Homo sapiens: one gene and its partners. The gene in region 4 interacts genetically with the main gene of each other region. Each region holds a gene or a part of one and is shown on either strand. Other genes may lie near its edges.

Region 1 (3,525 bases), on a different chromosome or scaffold from region 4:
GGAGGGTTTAATAATGCGATCTGGGACACAGGGAGGCCAGGCTGGCATGTGACAGAACACAGTGACATGAGATGCTCATTAGAGGGACTCTTCCCAATGGAAGCACAGACTGCAATTTGTACCTGAATGACAAGGTAGCGCTGGGGGTCTCGGGCCATTTTGGAGAATTCGATGATCAACTCACGGAACTTTGGGCGACTATCTGCGTCTATCATCCAGCCTGGGGAAGGAATGAGAAAAAACAGTGCAATTAGAACACTGGAAGAAATGATAAAGATGGCATTGCTTAAAGAAGGCATTGGTGATGCGACACTTCCAGTCAAATAAGTGATGAAAGAACCAAGTCTTTGTGGTAGACTTTTCTGTCTTGGCCAGCTAGTACTGGTTACTGTTTAAAGACCATGCCAGCACTGTACATTTGAATCAGAATAACAATAATGCCCTCTAGTTTTTCTACGCCCACTCTTCCTGGGGTCAGCATCCTGTGTTACGCCTGAGGGGATGGAGCAGTGTGGGTCTGTACAATTGCTCTCCATGAACTATCCTGACTGCAGGGTGCCCTGCACCAAGGTCCTCACTCAACATCCACCCTTAGCATTCCTTCAGGTAGGAAACCAGATGCAACTTAGAAAAATAGGCTTTAAAGAATTTGGGGTTGGGACTGGGCCCCTACCCCCGGCGTCTCCAGTACAGCACATACCCAGTGGGCATGCATGCAAGTGAGAAGGCTGGTGGGCATGCATGCAAGTGAGAGGGCTGGCTGTGCTGGCAACTTCCACAGGAGGACACACTGTTAACTGTGCTGCTGCATGTGACTACCCAACAATCTAAATCCAGATTAAACAATTTGGAGGTATGGCTACTGCCTGGAAATCCTCATGCCTCTTGAGGGATCACATTTATTTTCCATCCACAGCATATCAAGCTATTTTAGGCCAGACTGCTATGTGACCTTAGACAAATCACGTGGCTTCTCTGGATCACAGCTTCCTTAGCCCAAACCAAGGAAGTTAAAAAAGATCAACTCTGTGGCCTAGAGTTCAGAAAGGCATTAATATTTACATTAACTTGGCTCTGTCATATTCCCTATACAACTTTCTTTTGCAAATGCTCATCCCATGCATGTAATGCTACCTCCAGAGCCCACTGCACTCGTGAATCTGGTAGAATAATAGCATCAATCAAATTACACACTCTTATTTAGATTGAAATGTTTAAATGCCACACTGCAGAGACTTCACATAAATCCACTGGTTTAAAAGGTTTAAGTCAAAGCAGAAATGTTGACTCTATTAGCCTTATGTTGTTACTCACTGCCATGCATTTAAAAACATTCAGTCTCTCTGGTAACAGGCTTCAAAATATAGGGCAACTCGGTATTTCATTGAGTAACTCAGCGAATAGAATATTTTGGTGTAATGGCTTGCGGAAGACTTTAGTTTTATTTATTTGCTTGCAAACATGGGCAAATGTCAGGTCATACTGCCCAATGAGTCAAGAAGTGTCTTTAAAAGAATGCTTGAAGGGGTATTTACAGATGTTTCTGGATTTGTGTGCCTGCCTTAAGTAATGTGATGACATTTCTCCAGGGATGCAAAGGCCTCAGCTGTTTGGCTAAGAGCAGCCACCAAGGCTCAGCTAGGCAGTGTGGACAGACCCACCAGTCACTCACACTTGACCATGATCATGTAGACATCGATGGTACATATGGGTGGCTGAGGGAGGCGTTCTCCTTTCTCCAGGATGGAGGAGATCTCGCTGGCAGGGATTCCGTCATATGGCTTGGATCCAAAGGTCATCAACTCCCAAACAGTCACCCCTGAGAGGATGAAGCAAGAAAAGAAGGCAGTGGGATCATGAATGAACAATCACAATCCCTTGCTTTAGTCATCATTACTGGTTACTGTTTCTTGATGTTTAGAAACCTACATTTCTGTAGTCTTGGGCAATTTGCTTCAATGCTGGAAGCCTCAGTCTACCTCTCTATAAAGTGGGGTAATAGCAGTATCTGTTTCACAGGATTGCTGTAAGGACCCAACAAGATAATACAACTGAAATGCTTAGTGCAATGCCCAGCAAGTAGTAAGTGACTGATAAGTGGTAAACTTTGGTAATTAACAATAAAGACAACAGTAACTCTACTAGCATAAGTATTATGCTCCAGACAGGATACACACTCAGTCACCTGCTCTGAGGGACCTGTATCTGCAGAATGAGGAAGATGCAGATTCTGAACAGGGCTGTAAACTGCACATTTTTAGATCATAAAAAAATTGGAAATGAAAAAGCTTAAGTTCCATTTGATAAAAATAAAAACCTCAGGAAGAAACTGAATCCCTGAACAGACCAATAATGAGCTCCAAAATTGAATCAGTAATAAATAGCCTACCAACCAAAACAAAGCCTAAGACTAGATGGATTCATAGCCAAATTCTACAAGATGTACAAAAAAAGCTGGTACCATTCCTACTGAAACTATTCCAAAAAAATTGAGAAGGAGGGACTCTTCCTTAACTCATTCTATGAGGCCAATGTCATCCTGATACCAAAGCTTGGCAGAGATACAACAAAAAAAGAAAACTTCAGGCCAATATCTCTGATGAACATAGACATAAAAATCCTCAACAAAATACTGGCAAATCGAATCCAGCAGCACATCAAAAAGCTTAAGCCACCACAATCAAGTCGGCTTCATCCCTGGGATGCAAGATTGGTTCAACATATGCAAATCAATAAATGTGATTCACCACACAAACAGAACTAAGGACAAAAGCCACATGATCATCTCAATAGATGCAGAAAAGGCTCTCAATAAAATTCAACATGTTTAAAATTCTCAATAAACTAGGTATTTAAAGAACAAACCTCAACATATTAGCCATCTATGGCAAACCCACAGCCAACATCATATTGAATGGGCAAAAGTTGAAAACATTCCCCTTGAAAATTGACACAAGACAAGGATTCCCTCTCTCAACACTCCTATTTAACATAGTATTGGAAGTCCTGGCCAGATAAATCAGGTGAGAGAAAGAAATAATGGACATCCAAACAGGAAGAGAGGAAAACAGCTATCTCTGTTTGCAGATGACATGATCCTATATCTAGAAAACCCCATAGTCTTGACCCAAAACCCCTTAAGCTGATAAACAACTTCAGTGAAGACTCAGTTGTACAAAATCAATGTACAAAAATAATTAGCATTCCAATATGCCAACAACAGTCAAGCTGAGAACCAAATCAGGAATGCAATTCAATTCACAATTGCCACAAAAAGAATAAAATACCTAGAAATACAGTAAACCAGGAAAGTGAAAGATCTCTACAATAAGAACCACAAAACACTGCTTAAAGAAATCAGAGATGACACAAACAAATGGAAAAACATTCCATGCTCATGGATAGAAAGAATCAATATCATTAAAATGACTATACTGCCCAAAGTATTTTATAGATTCAATGTTACTCCTATCACACTACCAATGAGATTCTTCACAGAACTAGAAAATACAATTTAAAAATTCA
Region 2 (3,525 bases), on a different chromosome or scaffold from region 4:
ATTACCAACTTTCTTCATGTAACTTTAATCCAGCAAGATTAATAAACTAAAATATTTAATCAAGTTACTGCATCTCTGATGATTTTATTGTATTACCTGACTCCCACAGTCCAAATAGAAAAAAGCGCATAATTTGGCATGATTAATCATTCATAGGTTTTCTAAAAGTGATTGATTATAACTTGTCAGACACATAATCTGATTGACCAAAGCTTCTGCAATTAAGTTGGTAACTGCCCCCTTTTAATTAATAATGCAACAAATACATTTACACTTCACAGATTCTACTTAGAAACATTCTACTCCATTGGCAGTTCATTACCAACTTAATGAACAAATCCTTCTGAAATCAAAGTAAAAGTCCATAATAGTGAGCCAGACTACACTATGAAAATCATTATGTTCCAAATATAAATTACTATTAAAGATATTCTATTTTCTTATTATTACATTTTGCACATATGTATACAATTAAATGATGAACAAAATACATACTTAACTAGTAACCTGAAAAATTACTTACCTCTGCATCTACCTCAATTCCAAGCACATCCAAAAGAGCTTTACAAATATTTCTCACATAGACCTTCCTGACTTGTAAAGCAGATTCATACCCAGCTGGCACAAATTTAAGGAAATACTGCAGTAAATGGCACAAAGCTGCTTTTAGCAAATCAGACTTAAGCCGCATGAGCACACCGTCTTCAAACATGACACAGAGTTTTTCCAGCAGCATATTTAAATAGACAGGTTCAATATTTCTATAAGCTTCTGCTTCAAAGGGAAATAGTGTCTTTATCAGCTTTGATAATGGCTCTTCATAGAGTTTCAATTGGTCAGTATCCATTTCTACAAGGTGTTTTAATAATTCCAAAAATGAGCTGAAAAAAGTGCTAGCTGGTTGTGCTGGTAGTCCTCCAAGCTGAAAAAGTTCTGTTAAAAAGCTAATTGCTAGGGATTTAATTTTTGGACTACCATACTCTAGCAGAACACAACCTATCTGCCAAAGTAAGAGTTCTTGCCTTCTAAAAAACACAATTGCAATAATACGAGTAAGAACCATTAATAAAGTGACTTCAATAAATTCTAAATTTTGCATACTCATCAACTGCAAAGGAGCTGATTGTAAATATCCCATGTGTTCATCTAATTGACTTAAAAATCGGCTCATGACCACTGGCCATTCCACAGCATGACCCATCACATTTCTTCTATGGAGGTAAACCAAGTCTTCAAAAAGTTGTAATAATTCTTTTGTGAGTACCCCAAAAATAGCAGGACTCTTGCTTTTAAAAAGAAATAATAATGAACAGATGACTTCACAGATTTTCTTGTGTAACAAATGACAGGAGGGAGTTGCTGCAATCCGCAGAAGTCTCGTTATGATCCAATTACTGAATTCTTTGAAATAAACAAAAAAGATATTAAATAAACAAGTATATCCGAAGTGCTAATTCATTTGCTAAATCCTTGACGATTGACTTTTAAAGAATAAACTTCACTAACAAGAGTGTAAAACATTCTCTTCACAATGGAAACATAATAGTTTAGAACACAGGCATACCCAGTTTTATTGCACGTTGCAGATACTGCATTTGTCACAAATTGAAGGTTGTGGTAACTCTGCATCAAGCAAGTGTATCAGTGCCATTTTTCCAATAGCATGTGGTCACTTCATGTCTCTGTATCACATTTTGGTAATTCTCAAAATATTTCAAACATTTTCATTATTATCGTATCTGTTATGGTGATCTGTGATCAGTGACGTTTGATGTTACTATTGTAATTGTTTGGAGCTGTCATGAACCACACCGATATAAGGTGGCAAACTTAATGGATAAATGTATGTGTTCTGACCCACCGACCAGCAGTTCCCCATCTCTCTCCCTCTCCTTGTGTCTCCCTATTCCCTGAGACACAGTATTGAAATTAGGTTAATTAATAACCCTTACAATGGCCTCTATGTGTTCAAATGAAAGGAAGAGTCACACATCTCTCACTTCAAATCAAAAGCTAGAAATGATTAAGCCTACTGAGGAAGGCATGTTGAAAGCCAAGACAAGTTGAAAGCTAGGCCTCTTTCACCAAACAACCAACTTGTTAAAACAAAGAAAAAGTTTTTGGAGGAAATTAAAAGTACTACTCCACTGAACGCACCATTGATGAGAAAGTGAAACAGCCTTATTGCTGGTATGGAGAAAGTTTTTGTACTCTGAATAGAAGATCAAATCGTTAAAAGATGAGGAAATTTCCAGTAGGAAAAAAAGAAGATCAAACCAGCCACAACATTCCCTTAAGCCAAAGCCTAATCCAGAGAAAGGCCCTCAACATCAAGGCAAGACACTCCACCAGCACAAATATTACAACTTGTTGAAGGATGATATAATCGTTAGCATTTTTTAGTAATAAAGTATTTTTAATTAGGGTACATACATTGTTTTTTAGACATAATGCTATTCCACACTTAAGGTACAACGTAAACATAACTTTTATATGCACTGGGAAACCAAAAAATTCATGTGACTTACTTTATTGCAATATTCACTTTATTGTAGTGGTCTGGAACTGAACCCACAATATTTCTGAGGTATGCCTGTAACAACTTTGGAGTCAGACAGGCAAGGTCCTAGCTTTCCACTTACTAGTTGTATAAACTTTTCATTTCTCTGAACCTCTGTAATTTCATGTATAAGGAGAATAATGCTATCTATGTTATGGGTTACTGTGAGGACCAAATAAGAAAATGCACATGAAATACTCAGCACAGTTCCAAAGTAAAATAAATGTTCAATAAAGGGTAGCTATTGTCATTCTTTCAACTAAAATTTGAGTGGTGACTCTGTCTCAGGTACACAAGAATAAATCAGTCATAGTCCTGTCCTCATGAATCTCACAGTACAGTTTCTTGAGCTTTTTGACTGCAACAAAGAAATAACATTTTATATCATGACCCAGTACATATACATGCATTTTATTTAAATATTTAAAACAAAAGGTTCATTAAATAGTACTTACTCTTATTACATACAATGTACTATAATATTTTCTTTTTTTTTTTCTTGAGACAGGTTCTCACTCTGTTACCCAGGCTGGAGTGCAACGGCATGGTCTTAGCTCACTGCAATCTCTGCCTCCCAGGCTAAAGCAATTAGTGTGCCTCAGCCTTCCAAGTAGCTTGTACCACAGGCATGTGCCACCATGTTCAGCTAATGTTTTTCTGTTTTGTTTTGGTTTGGTTTGGTTTGGTTTTGGTAGAGACAGGATTTTGCCATGTTGCCTAGGCTGGTCTCGAACTCCCAAAGTGCTGGGATTACAGGCGTGAGACATCGTGCCCAGCCTATGATATTTTCTAGTTTATTTCATCTTGTTTTAAATGCTGATAATTGCCTAATTTCATAACCCACTAGTGGGTTATGACCTGTAGTTTAAAAACTACTGTAGGAAAGAATATAGACAAACCAATGATTAGAGCACAGTTTAATAGCCTCTATGATAGATGAAATGCAGAACACTTAGTACTAAGAG
Region 3 (3,500 bases), on a different chromosome or scaffold from region 4:
AGAAATGCCTATTTAAAACTCATCTTACAGAGTAGTACATTGTATCCAAATTCATTAAATGCCCACATTTTCTCAGGAAGCATGCTAAATCCACTGAGATACATAAACTGAGTCTTCAACTGAAGTTTTTTTTTCCACATAGGTGATGATGTAGTTTATTCACAGCTGAAGATTTCACCTACAATTCTAAGCTAAAAAAGGATTCTGAGAAGATGTCTTTCTTAAAAAAATTAGGCTATCTGGGCACAGTGGTGACTGCCTATAATCCCAGCTACTTGGGAGACTGAGACAGGAGTATTGTTTGAGCCCAGGAGTTCAAGACCAGCCTGGGCAACACAGCAACAGCTCATCTTTTTTTTTTTTTCTTGAGACAGGGTCTCACTGTCACCCAGGCTGGAGTGCAGTGGTGCAATTTCGGTTCACTGTAGCCTTGACTTCCCAGGCTCCAGTGATTCTCCCACCTTGGCCTCCCAAGTAGCTGGAACTACAGGCGTGCTACCACCATGTCTGGCTAATTTTTTTGTATTTTTGGTAGACATAGGATTTTGCAATGTTGTCCAGGCTAGTCTCGAACTCCTGGGTTGAAACAATCCTCCTGCCTTGGCCTCCCAAAGTGCTGGTATTACAGGTGTGGGCCACTGCACTCAGCCGAGACCCCATCTCTTAGGGGAAAAAAAAAATTAGGCCTGAAAAGTAACTTTACCATTTATTAAATTGTTATTATCTACCAGACATTATACTAAGTAACTTATATATATTAATTCTTCAATAATCACAATAATCCAATGAAGTAGGCATTATTACCTCCATTTTACAGCTAAAGAAAATTCAACTTGAAAATATTAATGTCTTCTCTAAATTAGTTAATTAGTGACAGAATGAGGATTAAAATCCAAGATTGCTGAACTGAAAAGCATTATTAACCATGTGTTATACTTCCTCCTCAATACTACAAAAAAGGAAAAAAATATATAATTCACTATTTTTTTTTTTTTTGAGACAGGCTCTCACTCTATCACCCAGACTGGAGTGCAGTGGCATGATCTCGGCTCACCACAACTTCTGCCTCCCAGGCTCAAGGGATTCTCCTGCCTCAGCCTCCTGAGTAGCTGGGATTACAGGCACATGCCACTATTGCCCGGCTAATTTTTGTATTTTTAGTATAGACAGGGTTTCACCATGTTGGCCAGGCTGGTCTTGAACGCCTGACCTCAAATGATCCACCTGCCTCAGCCTCCCAAAGTGTTGGGATTACAGGCGTGAGCCACTGCACCCGGTCTAACTGACTATTTTCTAAATAATCCACAGTTTCGTAATTTCTCTTTTCTGAAAGCAAATTTCTTTATGCATATTACTATAGTAACCTTGGAAAATATAGAAAACTAAAAAGAAAAAAAAAGCCACGCAATATTTCATTCACTTAACAACTGCTGCTTACATCTCAATGTATTTCCTTTTAACATTTTTTCTTGAATTCCTGCTTCTGTCTCTTCCTCAAAGATGAAGAGCTCATTAAATCAATGCTTCTCAATTATTCATTAGGATTAGTGAGTTGTGAAATCTACTTAATGGGCCGGGACCAGCATTAAAATAAACAAGCAGAAACCTAAATAAAAATAGAAAATACCAGGCCAGGCACAGTGGTTCATGCCTGTAATCCCAGCACTTTGGGAGGCTGAGGCGGGTGGATCACCTGAGGTCAGGAGTTCAAGACCAGCCTGGCTAATGTGGTGAAACCCCATCTCTACTAAAAATACAAAAATTATCTGGATGTGGTCACAGGCGCCTGTAATCCCAGCTACTTGGGAGGCTGAGGCAGGAGAATCGCTTGAACTGGGAGGTGGAGGTTGCAGTGAGCCAAGATTGTGCCACTGGACTCTAGCCTGGGCAACAGGAGTGAAATTCTCCGTCTCAAAAAAAAAAAAAAAAAAAAAAGAAAAAAAGAAAAAAAAAGAAAGAAAATACCAGAGTGGGTGAGGTACAGTGGCTCTCACGCCTGTAATCTCAGTGCTTTGGGAGGTCCAGGTGGGAGGATCACTTGCGCTCAGGAGTTTGAGACCAGCCTGGGCAATAGAGCGAGACCTCATCTCTACTAAAAATCCAAAAATATTAGCTGGGCTTAGTGGCCTACGCCTGCAGTCCCAGGTATTTGGTAGGGTGAGGCGGGAGGATCACCTGAACCCAGGAGGTCCAGGCTGCAGTGAGCCAAGATCACAACACTGCACTCCAGCATGGGCAACAGAGTGAGACCCTGTCTCAAAAAAAAAGAAAAGAAAAGAAAATATCAGAGTGCACCAGATGTAGTGAGGTAAAGTTTCATAATATTTTAGCTACACATACACATGCGCTTGTGTATATAATTTATATATACATATGCACACATTCATATGCTTTTTTTTTTTTTTTTTGAGGCAAAGTCTCACTCTGTCGCTCAGGGCGGAGTGCAGTGGTGCAATCTCGGCTCACTGCAACCTCTGCCTTCTGGGTTCAAGGAATTCTCCCACCTCAGCTTCCTGAGTAGCTGGGATTACAGGCATGCAGCAGTAACACGCCCAGCTAATTTTTGTATTTTCAGTAGAGATGGGGTTTTACCATGTTGGCCAGGCTGGTCTTGAACTCCTGACCTCAGGTGCCTTGGCCTCCTAAAGTGCTTCGATTACAGGATTGCAGGCTCAGGATTACAGGCGTAAGCCTCCGCACCCGGCCTTGTATGCTTTTATATCTCTACCAGTTACAATGTAAAGTTTTTCTGAGTTTACAGCCAGAGCTTGAAATCAAATGCACTAAATTAGAAACTCAAGAACAGAAACCTCATCTTTTTGATCACCACTGTACCCTGAGGGTAAGCAGTGCTTGGCACATAATAGAAACTCAGAAGACATAAGTATTTGCTGTTGAATCAGATAATATTGCCAGGAGAGTAGTTAACTGGAGGAAAATTGATTAAAACAGATAACTTGGCCGGATGCGGTGGCTCACGCCTGTAATCCCAGCACTTTGGGAGGCCGAGGCGGACGGATCACAAGGTCAGGAGATCGAGACCATCCTGGCTAACACGGTGAAACCCCGTCTCTACTAAAAATACAAAAAATTAGCCAGGCGAGGTGGCGGGTGCCTGTAGTCCCAGCTACGCTGGAGCCTGAGGCAGGAGAATGGCATGAACCCCGGGGGGGCGGAGCCTGCAGTGAGCCGAGATCATGCCACTGCACTCTAGCCTGGGCGACAGTGAGACTCCATCTAAAAAAAAAAAACAAAAAAAAAAATACAGATAACTCTTACAGGAGACGAGTATTTGAGTTTTACTTTAAAGAAAGGGAAAGACGCGGCCGGGCACGGTGGCTCACGCCTGTAATCCCAGCACTTTGGGAGGCCAAGGCAGACAGATCACGAGGTCAGGAGATCGAGACCATCCTGGCTAACACAGTGAAACCCTGTCTCTACTAAAGGTACAAAAAATTAGCCGGGCGTGGTGATGGGCCCCTGTAGTCCCAGCTACTCAG
Region 4 (3,525 bases):
TAACAAATACTTTTATTATTTTGAAGCATTTCATCAATTCTCGGTGGAAGCACTACATCATCGAATGGGAAATCAACAAATGAAAAATGAAAAAAAAGATTATCCATTCACAGTAAGCACCATTTTACTAGAAAGAGAGATAAACTTCAAAAAGACAGAACTAAAAGTCTTTAAATATAAGACTGTATTCTTCTATATACTACACATCAATTTGTAGTGGCACCAAAGTGTCGCCTGCTCTGCCTGAGGGAGCACTCCCCCTAGTGATTTTCCATAGGAAATAAAGTTAAACTTTTATTAAAGTAAAAATTCCTGGGTCAATTAGAACACAAATAAGGAGGAAATTCTTTATAAAATAAGTACCTTGATGTTAGGGTGACTTAGAAACAATTCATTAGTCTTTGAATTCTAAATAGCTGAAGACATGCAGCTAAAACAATAATTTTTATTTTAATTTTTTTTGTTTTTGAGACGGAGTCTTGCTCTGTCACCCAGGCTGGAGTGCAATGGTGCAATCTCGGCTCACTGCAACCCCCGCCTTCCAGTTTCAAGTGATTCTCTTGCCTCAGCCTCTCAAGTAGCTGGGATTACAGACACCCACCACCACACCCAGCTAATTTTTGTATTTTTAGTAGAGGTAGGGGTTTCACCATGTTGGCCAGGCTGATCTCGAACTTCCTGACCTCAGATGATCCCCCTGCCTCGGCTTCCCAAAATGCTGGGATTACAGGTGTGAGCCACCACTCCCGGCCTAAAATAATAGTTTTAAATGTACAAAAATATCCATCCTTACTGAGCTGATTTATATTTGTTTTAAATTCTTTTTAGATTCAACTTTTAAAAAATACATTAGGCCAGGCATGATAGCTCACGCCTGTAATCCCAGCCCTTTGGGAGGCCGAGGCGGGTGGATTGCTTGAGCTCAGGAGTTCAAGATTAGCCTAGGGAACATAGTAAAACCCCATCTCTACAAAAAATACAAAAATTAGCAGGGCATGGAGGCATGCACCTGTAGTCGTAGCTATTTGGGAAGCTGAGATGGGAGGATTGCTTGAGCCTAGGAGATTGAGGCTGGAGTGAACTGTAATCCTACAACTGTACTCCAGCCTGGGCAACAGAGCAAGATCTTGTCTCCAAAAATAAAAATAAAAAAACTGAGATCAAAATAAATTTAGAGCTAAATCATCAGAATTAAGTAGTGACTAATAAGATGCTAAAAGAAAATCTGAAATTGGAGAGTCTTTCATCTAACAGAGTTACTAAATGCCCATTATATGTTAGGCGCCGTTCTTTGTTCACACTAGTAACAAAAGACAAAAAATAACTATGCTATTTCACATTTAACAGTCCTTAGAATGTTGACTGATTAGATATTTTCCCAAGTATCTTTTAGGTTTGTTCTGTTCTTGGTGGTTATCTAAACAAAAAATACTCTGACAACATTTAGTAAATTCATTTGTTTCCTTCTTGAATACAAACATTTTAGAAAATTCCAACTTCTTTTGTAGTCACTGCTAAATTTTGTATGCTGAGATTGAGACACTTACTAGTTATCAGGTGCTGACCCTGGCCACCTCCCAGAATTGTCCATATGCCTGGGAAGCAGTGCCTGCCATTGTGCTGGAGTAGCCTCCTTGCAGCACACTTTGCTGTAATACTCTCCAAACCAATTTTCTCTAATGCTATGTGACCTATATTAAGGTAGGGCATTCCAATATATCCTCCAATTTTGGTGAATACAATTGAATGGTTCTCAACAATGAATAGTTTGGCACACTTTTATTTGGGGGAGGTGGGGTGGTCACAATGACTAGCATCAGTGGGTAAGGGCCAGAAAGGCTAAATGAATCCTGCAATGGGATGACAGGTTTTTATCCTAAAGAACTGTCTCACTCAAAAGGCCAATAGTGACTGTCCATGGAGGGACACTCAGCTGTTGTCACCTGGTACAGTAACAAAGACAGAAGCTTCACTTTACTCATGTAATTTTTTCTACTAGACAGGAAGATAATTTTTGCATTTTATTAAATATATTTATATGCCACAAAAATTATTTTAGTGACAACTACCAGGAAAGTACAAAATCACTTAATAACTGGTTTTCTACACCTTGATTTGTCAAGAAACTCATAAGCAAATGGAAAGTAGTAAGTACTGATTGCAGTTACTTACAGCAAACAGTTTTGAGAAGAAGAAGAAAACCTGTAACACTGAAAATTGCTTTATATCCCATTCATAGATCTCTTCAAAAGGTCTACTTTAAAAATAAATCACATAAAGAATTGTTCAGACTTGTTTGGTGATGCCTCAACTTCAGAACATTTGCAAGGAAATCACATGTAAAAGCAATCATCTCATACAATTAAATGCTATTAAAGAAAAAAAAAGTTTCCTTTAAAACAGTGGTTCCCAAAATTTAGCAGGCATCAGAATCTCCTGAGGGAAGCTTGTTAAAATACAGAATGCTGGCCTCCTCCCCAGAGTTTGCTACAAGTTTGCAGGCCATTCTGATGTTGGTGCGGGCACAACACTTTGAGAACCACTACTTTAAGATCTAGTCTCTAGAATTCAAACTAATAAGCAATGCCCATATGCCTTTGCTTTTTCTAATAATAAATAAATAAAAGATCATTTCAGGTAGCTGCATCAAACTTTAAGCCTTTAGACTTTTTTTTTTTTTTTTTTTGAGGCAGAGTTTTGCTCTTATTGCCTAGGCTGGAGTGCAATGGCGTCATCTCAGCTCACCACAACCTCCGCCTCCCGGGTTCAAGCAATTCTCCTGCCTCAGCCTCCCGAGTAGCTGGCATTACAGGCATGTGCCACCACGTCCGGCTAATTTTTTGTATTTTTAGTAGAGATGGGGTTTCTCCACGTTGGTCAGGCTGGTCTCGAACTCCTGACCTCAGGTGATCCGCCCACCTCGGCTTCCCAAAGTGCTGGGATTAAAGCCACCACACCCGGCCACCTTTAGACTCTTGAAATGTTACGCTGACTCACAATTATTCCCATGAGTTCAAAAGACAGAACTAAAGGACAGTCCTGAATAATCTATGACTACAGGAAAACATTTATTTACATGCCCTCTACAAAATGGATTTACAAAACATAGTAACTATTAGGGTACATGACCTTGCTCCTATCTTCCCCATTGTGCTTCTTCTCTATAGAAAATCCAATATGAAATGACAAAGAGTACTGTACTCAGAATAAGAACTTCATCTATCATAAATGTACACATAAATATCAGTGAATTGTCATACTCAAGACTCAGATTCAGGAACTTCTTCATCAGGGCAGCAGTAATATTCCACAAAACATATTTGTCCATCTTCATTTCTAATCATATACTGTAATGAAAGGAAGCCTCTGTTATCTGTCCGAATAGATACCTTACAAGATAGGACTAATGCCTTTGTAGAGGGTTTCAGTAAGGAAATCTTGTATCTGTAGAAGAAAAAATAAAACGCTGTTATATCAACACAGTGAACACTGCTCAGAACTCCCAAGTAAAGGATAAAAAGTAGC
Region 5 (3,525 bases), on a different chromosome or scaffold from region 4:
TCGGGAGTTTGAGATCAGCCTGACCAACACGGAGAAACCCCATCTCTACTAAACATACAAAATTACCTGGGCCTGGTGGTGCATGACTGTAATCCCAGCTACTCGGGAGGCTGAGGCAGGAGAATCACTTGAACCCGGGAGGTGGAGGTTACGGTGAGCTGAGATTGTGCCATTGCACTCCAGCCTGGGCAACAACAGCAAAACTCTGTCCCAAAAAAGACATTTATCTCTTGCTTATCTCTTTTCTTTGTACTAGATGCTATGTTAAATGTTTTTCTTTGGTTTTCAATTTTTTAAAGTATGAAAACCTACATATTAGACTATAATTTTGTGCTTATCTTTTAAAGCATATGGTATTTTCCAAACCATCTGTAATAAAAATTAATTATCTCACCAGTCAGAAAAAAAAGATGGATATTTATTTTCTAAATAAGAGGCTCTTTAGTAGAGATTTGAGCATTCAGTTGACATTTACTTAATTTAGCCTATTCTCTTATTAAATACTTGAAAGAACTCCTATAGATCACAAATTAAAAACCATTCTAAAGAGTAATGAAAAAGCAGGAGGTGGGAGCAAAGCACAGAGTCTTAGAGTCAACCCATTACCCAGGCATGGCTACAGAGCATGTAAAGCTGACCAAAGACTCTTCCTACCTATTGCTGCCACCTCACATTCTTTTTTTTTTTTTTTTTTTTTTTTTTTGAGATGGAGTCTTGCTCTGTTGCCTAGGCTGGAGGGCAGTGACACGATCTCGAGTCACTGCAACCTCCGCCTCCCAGGTTCAAGCGATTCTCCTACCTCAGCCTCCTGAGTAGCTGGGACTACTGGCACGTGCCACTGTGTCCAGCTAATTTTTGTATTTTTAGTACAGATTGGCCAGGCTGGTCTTCAACTCCTGACCTCAGGTGATCCGCCTCGGCCTCCCAAAGTGCTGGGATTACAGGCGTCAACCATCGCGCCCAGCCTGTCACCTCACATTCTTTACTTACCAATGTAGGCTGAGTATCCCTACTCTGAAAAACCAAAATCCAAAAATACTTCTAGGTCCTAAGCATTTCAGATAAAGAATAGTCAACCTGTAATGTGGGATATTAGTAGTTTATGTACATATTTCATAAGATGCTTCCATGGTGAATACACCAGTGCGACCGAGAAACTGGGAAAGCAGTCCCCTATTCACTGATAAATCTCATTCCTATTATCTTTTCCCTACCAGACCTTAAAAATATCGATAGCAAAGTTCTGAGACACATTCCGTTTCAAAGTAATCTATAACCTACTCATAAATAATACTGTTGATTAGAAATAAAAGGTTTAGGTTAAAAATTCAGTATTTTTAGAGTTAATTTTAACTAGGGTCCTCACTCTTAGAAGTGCAATTAGTCACTGAGCTATTTTCAGTGCAACTTGGTAAAAACTAAAGAAGAAAAAGTGTTAAATGAAATACGATCTAAAAAGAATGGATAAATATAAAGAGAAAACAAACGCAACAAAAATTATATATTAATAAAGATTCTGTTCCAACTTCAGGTCAGGCCATAAGAAACAGTCATCCCTGGTATACACACGGCATTGGTTCCAAGACCCCCCCAGCCTCTAGTCCTACAGTTGGCCCAGGAACATCCAGGTATATGAAAAGTCAGCCCTCCATATCTGCATTTGGTTGGGAAAAAAACGTGTATCACAAGTGGACCCATGGTCACTCAAACGCATGTTGTTCAAGGGTCAACTGTATTTGGAGGAAGAAAAAAAAATATGCATCAATGTAGACTCTTTCAAAAAATTTAGAGTCTAAATAAGGTTTCAGCAAGCTACTGCCCACAGGCCAAATCTTGCCCACTGTTTTTGTATTGCCCATTAGCTAGGAATAGTTAAATAGCTGTTTAAAAAAACAAAAACAAAAACCCAAGACTTTGTGACAAAGACCCATATGGCCCTTTATAGAAAAGTTTGCCAACTCCTGCTGTAAGTTAATAACTCTTCACATTATTTGAAGTATTCTCAACAAATATTATTTATTCTCTTTATATATTTTTTTAAATTTACCACTCTGAGAAAGTACTGGTTATGAAAACCCATCTGATTTTAAAACACAGAGATTCTGTAATGAAACTAGTTAATAATGGAGCAAAGACAAGGATGAAGGTGTTACGTTTTTAATTAGTATTTCCAGCCTTTCAAAAAAGTAAACTTTTAAATTAGGTACATAAGTTACCAAGGTTACTAATTTGTAGCCTTAGGAAACTACGATAAAATAAAGTAACTTAAACTAACTCACAATAAAATATTAAATGAAGGAAAGTTATTCCCCATAGTCCCCCCACTCCCAGCTAAAATATTATTTTTTCCATCTACATAGTAAAAAATTTTTCTAAATGAAATGTACTATACTGGCAAGACTGAATTGTAGACAGAATTCAAACATTTCTGGTGACATAATAAGCACAATATTTTTGGAAAGCAATTACAGTATTTATCTAAAGTCATTCAAATGTTCATAGCCTTTGACATAGTAATGTTACTATGGGAAATTATGCTAAGAAAATATGTGGTTTTTTTTTAAATGACAGTTATAAAGAGATTCTTAACATGGCATCCTAAAATGTCTTACAAAGAAAATTTACTTAAGCATTTAAAACTGACCCATAATCTTGCACCATTTACCTATCTTCAAAATATATCCTACATCCAACCACCTACCACCACCACCACCACCATCCCCCTAGTCCATGATAACTATTTTGTCTCAGGCAATCTGCAGCAATTGCTTCCTAGCAGGTATCCCTGCTGTTAATCTCACAATATAGTCTCCACACAGCAGCAAGTGATAGTTTATAAATGTAGGTTAGGGCTAGGCACCATGGGCTAGGCACCTATAATCCCAACACCTTGGGAGGCCGAGACAGGTGGATCACCTGAGGTCAAGAGTTCAAGACCAGCCTGGCCAACATGGTAAAATCCCATCAAAAATACAAAAAATACAAAAAAAAATTAGGTGTGGTAGTGTGTACCTGTAGTCCCAGCTATTTGGGGAGCTCAGGTGGGAGGACTGCTTGAGCCAGGAAGGAAGAAAATGAATGAATGAATGAATGAACGAAGGTAGGTTAGATCATGTCATTCACTTGCTCAAAGTCCTCCAATAGCACTCTTCGGTCTTAAAAATAAAAATGCAAAGCACTCTTCCTTCTCTGGTACCTCCTATGTTTCCTTCATAGCATGTATTATAATTTGTAATTATGTATTTACTTGTGAAATTGTTTAAGTCTATATCCTCTACTAGGCTTTAAACTCCGTGTTGGTAGGGCTCACGCCTGTTGTACTCACCACTACACACCCTCTACCTAACAGTCTTGAACGCTATAGGTAATTAGTACTGCCTCTTAAATAAGTGAATGAATCCATTTGATGTAAATATATGCAGATACTAAAAAATGAATGGAAATTTTATTAGAATTAAGCAGTTAACATAAATACAATTTAACAGATTTTTCAATTATATAATACAAATCCTTCTCAAATATTCT

Evidence for each region.
Region 1: changes in RAD1 (region 4) and EGFR together harm fitness more than expected from each alone (negative genetic interaction), as found in Homo sapiens cells (one large-scale study listed by BioGRID).
Region 2: changes in RAD1 (region 4) and ATR are lethal when combined (synthetic lethality), as found in Homo sapiens cells (one large-scale study listed by BioGRID).
Region 3: changes in RAD1 (region 4) and RIT1 together harm fitness more than expected from each alone (negative genetic interaction), as found in Homo sapiens cells (one large-scale study listed by BioGRID).
Region 5: changes in RAD1 (region 4) and KRAS are lethal when combined (synthetic lethality), as found in Homo sapiens cells (2 studies listed by BioGRID, with this or other methods).

Annotation. Positions count from the first base shown.
Region 1 is NC_000007.14:55,197,011-55,200,535, reverse strand, and holds part of EGFR (epidermal growth factor receptor isoform a precursor), read right to left. Parts: intron 1,820-3,525; coding exon 1,673-1,819; intron 221-1,672; coding exon 123-220; intron 1-122. UniProt on the Homo sapiens protein: Receptor tyrosine kinase binding ligands of the EGF family and activating several signaling cascades to convert extracellular cues into appropriate cellular responses.
Region 2 is NC_000003.12:142,561,709-142,565,233, forward strand, and holds part of ATR (serine/threonine-protein kinase ATR), read right to left. Parts: intron 1,402-3,525; coding exon 524-1,401; intron 1-523. UniProt on the Homo sapiens protein: Serine/threonine protein kinase which activates checkpoint signaling upon genotoxic stresses such as ionizing radiation (IR), ultraviolet light (UV), or DNA replication stalling, thereby acting as a DNA damage sensor.
Region 3 is NC_000001.11:155,904,850-155,908,349, forward strand, and holds part of RIT1 (GTP-binding protein Rit1), read right to left. Parts: intron 1-3,500.
Region 4 is NC_000005.10:34,905,505-34,909,029, forward strand, and holds part of RAD1 (cell cycle checkpoint protein RAD1), read right to left. Parts: intron 3,445-3,525; coding exon 3,261-3,444; 3' UTR 91-3,260; coding exon of another isoform or gene 27-90; 3' UTR 1-26. UniProt on the Homo sapiens protein: Component of the 9-1-1 cell-cycle checkpoint response complex that plays a major role in DNA repair. The 9-1-1 complex is recruited to DNA lesion upon damage by the RAD17-replication factor C (RFC) clamp loader complex.
Region 5 is NC_000012.12:25,230,417-25,233,941, forward strand, and holds part of KRAS (GTPase KRas), read right to left. Parts: intron 1-3,525. UniProt on the Homo sapiens protein: Ras proteins bind GDP/GTP and possess intrinsic GTPase activity. Plays an important role in the regulation of cell proliferation.